Regions from separate parts of the Homo sapiens genome. Here region 2 is linked to region 1. Evidence: fine-mapped expression QTL. A gene starts in region 1. The other region holds a variant in brackets. All regions are shown on one strand. Distances are between the middles of the regions. Region 1 holds the start of IFT46 (intraflagellar transport 46). Region 2 overlaps ARCN1 (archain 1 coat protein complex I subunit delta).

Region 1 (4,000 bases):
CTTCCCTGACCACCCTATCAAAAGTGGGTTTCTGGCCAGGTACGGTGGCTCATACCTGTAATCCCAGCACTTTGGGAGGCCGAGGCAGGTGGATCAGTTGGGGTCAGGAGTTCGAGACCAGCCTGGCCAACATGGTGAAACCCCGTCTCTACTAAAAATACTAAAATTAGCTGGGTGTGGTAATCCCAGCTACTCGGGAGGCTGAGGAAGGAGAATCACTTGAACCCAGGAGGCGGAGATTGCAGTGAGCCAAGATCGCACCACTGCACTCCAGCCTGTGTGATAGAGTGAGACTCTGTCTCAAAAAAAAAAAAAAAAAAAAAAAAAAAGTGGGTCTCCTTCCTCACTGTTATTCTCCTTAACAGCAAACAATCTGCCTCCATCAGTGTGCACTTACCACATTTGGCATGTGTTTACTCATTTGTCATCTGCCTCCCATGATTACCAGCATCGGGATGGCAGGGACATTGTGTCATTTAACACTATTTACCCAAGTGCCAGGCATAAGGCTGGCACACAGTAGGCATTTTAAAATGCTTGTTGGCCAGACACGATGGCTCACACCTATAATCCCAGCACTTTGGGAGGCCAAAGCGGAAGGACTGCTTGAGGCTAGGAGTTCAAGATCAGCCTTGGTAACATAGCGAGGCCTCGTCTCTATAAAATTAAGAAAAAAAAGTTTGTTGAATAAATAAATAGTGTTCAGTCCTTTAAAAACATTCCACTGTGATTTTGGTTGGGGTTGCAGGCTAAGGGGAGGTTATGAAGCATCTTCAAAGCTAGGAAAAACATAAGTTAAAAAAAAAGAAAAGAAAAAGAAAAAGAACAGTGAATTCCTGGCAGACAGTGAGCAAAGCAGTAACATGAAGTAAATGGTGACAGGGTTGGATTGGGGGAAGATCCTGTAATTTGGAAGGCTATGATTTCTCCCCCTTAACTAGTCAGAAAACAAACAATGGCAAGTGAAGTAAATTGACGCTGAAAGTCAACATTTGCTATTATAAAATAAGAACTTCTTGAAGACAACCGTGAATCCATCCTGCTCTTTCAGTAGCATTTCTCTTCTTTCCTCTCTTACCTTGGTGTCTTGGGGTTGGAGTATAAATACTTGCAACCTCTTCGGAGTCGTTAATCTCTAGACGCTCATCATATGTCTGGTTTTCAACAACCTTGGTCTAAGCAAAGGGAGACATAATTCATAGCTCCTATCATGAGACATAAAGCACTCTGCCAGGAGGTATATTCCAAACCAGCATTGGCTCCTCTTCCTTACTCAAGAAACCAGTTTTTCACAAAACCATCACCCCATCCAAACTTTCCTTCAGGCTTCCTGGCCCTCGGTCAAGCAGTTAAGTCATTCTGTTGCAGCCCTTATTTAGGAACTGCTGGCAGGCTGGCTGAGGAACCAGGGAATCGTGGAGGGAAAGAGAGCCAACTTCTGCAGCTTCCCAAAGCTGTACGACCACGCGCAAGGGCAGAACACTATTTGTATGTAGATGGCCAAGGCTGTTGAGGTTTCTCAGGGAAGGCTGTAGAGGTTCTAGAAAGAGTTCTGTCTCTGGAGTCACCTCTGGGGTGGGGTGGGGTGGGGTGGGGTGGGGTGGGGTGGGGTGGGCTGAGGCGGGGTAGGGTGGGAGGGTCCCCGAAGAGAGGGGAAACTCCAGTCTCTCAGTCCCATCCGATAATCCCAAAATCATCACCTCCACTTTCACCCTTATCTTGCAGATAGGATCCCACCTAAGTTTCTTGGGGGAATAAAGGAAGCAGGACGGTTGGTGGTGAGGTGACGAAGGAACAGTTACCACGGAGATTGGAAGAGGTAACCGGGAATGGGGTAAAGGGGAGTCCTCTTAAGCCTCTCTAGAAAGACAGTTCCCTTTTTGCTGGGATGAGTACTAATTACCTGTAGCCCTTCTGAATCCGTCTCCTCTATAATGGAAAGAACCCCAGCCTAGGGCTGGGGTCTCACTCCAGTCTCAAAGCCAGGCCACTTTAGGATTCCACGCCAAGCAACCAGCCTGTTGTCAGTCGCTAGGCAAAAAGATAAATTTTAAAATTCGCGAGAGTTGCTTCCACTCTCGTGAGACCTCCTGCGCGTTAAGCCTCACCCGCGAAGGCTCTCCACGCAGGAAGAAGATCAAGGAGTCACGGATAAAGCCTCTCTGGGCGGCCAAGTCGCCTGTTTGTCTATGGTTTCAGTAAATACGTCTGTTGCGGCATCTAGCGGCTATGGGTGGCAACGCGGCTGATAAATTTCGGGCTGGTGTAGAGTTAGCCCTTCAATCTGGAAACAAGGTGTGCGTTTGTTCCCCTAGGACAACAATCTCTGGGGATGCAGTTGCTCCCAGATCAGTCTTACCAGGATGTAGACACATTCCAGGGGAAATTTCGCAGCACTCTGTAAGTCCTTTTCTAGCACTATATTACACTATAGTCTTTCCCCTCCACAGGGTGCCATGGAATGGAACATACTTATAGCAATAAATTATTCCTTGGGTATCTGAGGTTCAAATTTAACTCTGTGGGCCGGGCGCGGTGGCTCACGCCTGTAATCCCAGCACTTTGGGAGGCCAAGGCGGGCGGATCACGAGGTCAGGAGATCGAGACCATCCTGGCTAACACGGTGAAACCCCGTCTCTACTAAAAAATTCAAAAAATTAGCCGGGCGTGGTGGCGGACGCCTGTAGTCCCAGCTACTCGAGAGGCTGAGGCAGGAGAATGGCATGAACCCAGGAGGCGGAGCTTGCAGGGAGCCGAGATCGCACCACTGCACTCCAGCCTGGGCAACAAAGCGAGACTCCGTCTCAAAAAAAATTTTTTTTCACTCTGTGTCCTGTCTTTCTTATTTGCTAAAGTAGACTTTTAACTTATTTAAAGCAAGACCTGTGTCTAATTAATTTTTAAGCTTTGTAACACCAGTGTATTGCAGAAATTAGACACTAACAATGCTCATTGGGTGGATGAATCGAGGAATGAGTGAATGGAGATGTAAGGAACAAATATTTTCAAACTGTGGACATAATTAATTTGGGAAGTCAGGGAGAGAGAAACATAAAATATTGGAGGCCAGGTGCGGTGGCTCACACCTGTAATCCCAGCACTTCAGGAGGTAGAGGTGGGACGATTGCTTGAGTTCAGGAGTTTGAGACCAGCTAGAGCAACATAGCAAGAACCGCCCCCCTCCACTCTATTAAAAATAAAAAAAAAATTTTTTTTAATTAGCCAGGTGTGGTGGCACGCACCTATAGTGCTAGCCACTCGGGAGGCTGAGGCGGGGGGATTGCTTGAGCCAGGGAGGCAGAGGTTGCAGTGAACCGAGATTGGGCCACTGCATTCACTCCAGCCTGGGCAACAGATCAAGACCCCATCTCAAATATAAATAATGAATAATAACAATAATAATTTTTTGGTCGGGCACGGTGGCTCACGCCTGTAATCCCAGCACTTTGGGAGGCCAAGGTGGGTGGATCACAAGGTCAGGAGTTCAAGACCAGCCTGACCAACATGGTGAAACCCCCGTCTCTACTAAAAATACAAAAATTAGCTAGGCATGGTGGCGCGCGCCTGTAATCCCAGCCACTCAGGAGGCTGCGGCAGGAGAATTGCTTGAACCCGGGAGGTGGAGGTTGTGGTGAGCCGAGATCGCACCACTGCACTCCAGCCTGGGCGACAGGGCGAGACTCCGTCTCAAAATAATAATAATAGCAATACATTTTAAAAAGAAAATAATATTGGAAATTTGACCCTGAAAACCTACCAGAGGTAAACAAGGAAAGTGCCTTTAAAAAATGAGAGACAGCTTTTCTGGCATACTGATAGTTAAAAATAGAACTGCATTTAAAAAAAAATTTGTGATCTGTTTTGCTCGTAATAGTGGATATGTAATGTGCAGTACTTACTATGTAGGAGCACTTAGTTTTTTTGTGGGGAGCACTTAGATTATATCATCTAATTTACTTCACAACCTTATGAGATAGATGTTACTGCCAATCTACAGATT
Region 2 (4,460 bases), 22 kb after region 1:
TCAGCCTCCCAAGTAGCTGGGACTACAGGCATGCACCACCACGCTGGGCTAATTTCTGTATTTTGGTAGAGATGGGGTTTTGCCTTGTTGCCCAGGCTGGTCTCGAACTCCTGGACTCAAGCAATCTGCCTGCCTCGGCCTCACAAAGTACTGGGATTACAGGCGTCAGCCACCATGCCCAGCCATCTTTTGCAGTTTAAATATTTGAAGCCAGTATGGAATATTTTGATTCATCTCTTATCTCAGGGCTGTGGTACTGGTTGGTGACATTTTTAAGTGGTAGTTATCAAGTTCACATATTCGTGACTCAGATTTCTCGTCTTGAAGCCAGACCTTCTACTGTTGCTGATGGTTTTGAGGTCAAGTGAAAGATAATACCAGGAGGATACCTTTATCAGGTGTGCATAAAAGAGGAGTATTTACTCTTTTTCTTTCTTCTTTCCTTTCTTTCTTCCTTTCTTTCTTTCTTGACAGAGTCTTGCTCTGTCTCCCAGACTGGAGTGCAATGGCACGATCTTGCAACCTCCACCTCCCGGGGTCAAGCAATTCTCCTGCCTCAGCCTCCCAAGTGGCTGGGATTACAGGTGCACGCCATCACACCCGGCTAATTTTCTTATTTTTAGTAGAGACAGAGTTTTGCCGTGTTGGCCAGGTGGGTCTCGAACTCCTGACCTCAAGTGATCTGCCTGCCTCTGCCTCCCAAAAGTGCTTGGATTATAGGCGTGAGCCACCGTGCCCAGCCAAGTATTTACTCTTTATATGCCCTGTTCTGTATGAAATGAACAGGGTTACATTGGGATAAATTTCTTGATTCACTAAAGCCGCTGTGCTCTTCCTAGTGGTTGCTTTGAGTGAGACAGAGGCTTCACACTTTTAAAAAGATATTCCTGAGTGCAGTGGCCCACACCTGTAATCTTAGCACTTTGGGAGGCTGAGGTGGGCGGATTGCCTGAGCTCAGGAGTTCAAGACCACCCTGGGCAACATGGTGAAACTCCATCTCCACTAAAATACAAAAAATTAACCCCTTCTCCACTAAAATACAAAAAATTAGATGGGCGTGGTGGCACACACCTGTAGTCCCAGCTACTCAGGAGGCTGAGGCAGGAGAATTGCTTGAACCCGGGAAGCAGAGGTTGCAGTGAGCCAAGATGGTGCCACTGCACTCCAGCCTGGGCGACAGAGTGAGACTCTATCTCCAAAAAAAAAAAAAAAAAAAAAATGTTGGAGATCATCACATATTAAAGAGAATTTGAGACACTGTTTTTTTCTAAATGATAAATTGCCTCTTGAGCACAGAGCAAACTTTTGTGAAGGTAAAATGGTACCATGCATTGTCTTAAGATGCACTCCTTTATGGTCTTGACTCTGATGCCTTTGTTTCTAGGAAGACCTAAGAGGTTGGAACAAAGAACATGGTAGGATAACAAAATATTTTTTGTAGCCTCTGTAGTTCATCCAGCCAAACGTATGTCTATTACTGAATATGAATAGATTGTACTTAATACTTGCCTCTAGCAGCAGCAGTTTTTAATCTTTTAAAAATTGGATTATACATTCATATAGTACAAAATTCAAAAGTTGTTAACAGTCAGAAGTCTTCCTCTCACTCAGCCATGCCAGTTTCTCATTTTGGAGACAACTAGTATTAACAGAGTTTTTTGTGTATCCTTCTAAGGGGGATGGTCTGTGATATACAGATGAATAAAAAACATGTATACAGTGTGTCTATTTTTCCCCCTTTTATGCAAAGCAGTAAAACTAGACACGTCTTCCAATTGCATTTTTCATTTAATTATTTTGGAGATAAGAATCTCCTTATTTGAAACTGCAGAGATATGACATCTAAATGCGCAATACCTTACCCTAGACTGGATCCTCTACTAATGTAGTGTAGAAAAAACAACTCAAACTGTTTGTTTTTTCTATTTTCTCATTCAACAGCAACAATGAACACAGAAGACTTCTGTGATCAAGTGTGTTTAGATTTTTCCGCACACATCAAGCGGTCACACCTAGCTGGTGTCCTCCAATTCAATTCAATTCTGATGCTATCTACCTGGGAATAGCCTCAGATTCTACAGGTTGAGAGTTCAGTCCCCCAAGACTGATTCTTCCTTCCCACCAGTCATAAGTCCAGACTTTCAGAACTTCTTACTGACCTCAAGTTTGGCCTCCCACGACCCCCTCTGGGGTGTTCAATTAATCTGCTAGAGCACCTCACAGAACTCAGGGAAACTTACTTGACATTTATCAGTTTGTTACAGAGGACATTTTAAAGGATGCAAATAAGCAGCCAGATGAAGAGATACATAGGGCAAGGTCTGGGAGGGTCTTGAGCACAGGAGCTTCTGTCCCCAGGGAGCTGGGGTACGCCACCCTCCTGGAAAATAGATGAGACCTTGTTCATCTTCCTGTAAGCCTGCATGTGTTCAGCTGTCCAGAAGCTTCCCAGACCCTGTCCTCTTGAGCCTTTTATGGAGACTTCATTGGATAGGCATGATTGACAGGCATGCAGAAATGTGACTGGGCAAGGGTATGACCTAATACTGATAGGCTGAGTGGGGAAACACAGCAAGGCCTGTCCAAATTCTTGGCCTCTCTGTGCAGCATTAATCTTCCTCCAGGATATGGTGCAGGACCCCTTTTGGAGATCCTGCCTTGGGCTGGTGAAAGGAGGGCAGGAGAAGGTCAAAGAGAGGTTCTTTTTTCTAAGGGCTGCTCCTGAGGCCTAAAGTGCCCCAACATTATGTATAATAAGGGATATGGGAGTTATGAGCTAGGAACCATGGATGAAAACCGGTATGTATGTATATCATAATATCACAACTACTATTAAAAATATTATTAGGTCAACTGACGAAATTGACATATGGTTGACAGATCGGATACAATTATTGT[A/G]TCATTGTTAGCCTGGCATGATGGCACATGGCTGTAGTCCTTCCTACTCAGGAGGCTGAGGCAGGAGGATCACTTGAGACCAGGAGTTCAAGGTTATAGTGAACTGTGATTGTGTCTCTGAATAGCCACTGCACTCCAGCCTGGGCAACATAGCAAGATCTGTCTCTTAAACAACAACAACAGGCTGGGTGCGGTGGCTCACGCCTGTAATCCCAACACTTCGGGAGGCCGAGGCAGGCAGATCACCTGAGGTCAGGAGTTCAAGACCAGCCTGGCCAGCATGGTAAAACTCTGACTCTAGTAAAAATACAAAAATGAACCGGGCGTGGTGGCAGGTGCCTGAAATCCCAGCTACGCAGGAGGCTGAGACAGGAGAATCACTTGAACCCGGGAGGCAGAGGTTGCAGTGAGCCGAGATCACGCCATTGCACTCCAGCCTGGGCAAGAAGAGTGAAACTCTATCTCAAAACAACAACAACAAAAAGCTAAAAAAACTATCAGTGTAAATTTGTGAAGTTAATAATGGTACTGTGATTGATTATGTAAGAGAATATCCCTAATCTTATAAAATAAGCACTGAAGTATTTAGGGGTAAAGTGCCGTGTTGTATATAATCTGCTTCTTAATGGTTCAGGGAAAAAAAATCAAATGTATAACATACATATATAATGTTTAGAGAGAGAGAAACACAAGTGCAAATTATAAAACAAATGAGGTAAATATTAACAATAGGTGAATCTGGAAAAGGGTATATATGTCTTCCTTGTATAATTTTAATTTTTTTAAGCTTGAAAATACTTACAAATAGAAAGTTTTTTCAGTTGTTTGTTTTCTCACCATTGCCTACTATTCATTCGGGTGGATATGCCTTTATTTTTTATTTTTTATTTTTTTGAGACAGAGTCTCACTCTGTTGCCCAGGCTGGAGTGCAGTGGCACCATCTCGGCTCACTGCAAGCTCCGCCTCCTGAGTTCACGTCATTCTCCCACCTCAGCCTCCTGAGTAGGCGCCCGTCACCACACCCGGCTAATTTTGTTTTTGTATTTTTAGTAGAGGTGGGGTTTCACCATGTTAGCCAGGATGGTCTCGATCTTCTGACCTCGTGATCTACCCGCCTTGGCCTCCCAAAGTGCTGGGATTACAGGCGTGAGCCACCACGCCCGTGAATATGCCTTTATTTGAGCAGCCCCCTATTGGCAGACATGTTTCTAAACTTTTGCCATTACAAACAATTCTTCAGTGAATAACTTAGCAGATTGTTTTGCACAGGTGAGAATTTATCTGTAGGATAGAGTCTGTTGAAGAATTGCTGTATCAAAGGGTATCGCCTTTTAAATGTTGATAGCTATAGCAGTAGCACCTTTAAAAAAACGTTGTTGATGGCTAATCATTAGACCTTGGAGAAAGGGAGTTCTGATTTCTACCTTTCTTTTTTCTTTTCTTTTCTTTTTTATTTTTTGAGACAGAGTTTCACTCTTGTTGCCCAGGCTGGAGTGCAGTGGGACAATCTCGGCTCACCACAGCCTCTGCCTCGTGGTTCAAGCGATTCTCCTGCCTTAG

What was found. PIP is the estimated chance that this variant, and not a neighbour inherited with it, causes the effect.
Region 2: its variant is fine-mapped to the expression of IFT46 in aorta (GTEx, PIP above 0.99). The same link has a PIP of 0.9 or more in atrial appendage, esophagus muscle, stomach and tibial artery.

Annotation. Positions count from the first base shown.
Region 1 is chr11:118,563,887-118,567,886 of GRCh38, forward strand. IFT46 (intraflagellar transport 46) reads right to left here and starts at 2,045. Exons shown (of 12, transcript NM_001168618.2): 1 at 1,904-2,045; 2 at 1,079-1,175. LOC124902764 (a long non-coding RNA gene) reads left to right here and starts at 1,175. Exons shown (of 4, transcript XR_007062907.1): 1 at 1,175-1,488; 2 at 1,726-1,819; 3 at 2,316-2,400. RefSeq lists an enhancer at 2,088-2,317.
Region 2 is chr11:118,585,655-118,590,114 of GRCh38, forward strand. The region is part of intron 5 of ARCN1 (archain 1 coat protein complex I subunit delta); the gene reads left to right. Among named protein-coding and RNA genes, the nearest start is that of ARCN1, 15 kb to the left of the region's middle. The variant A/G (reference allele first, on the strand shown) is at 2,900.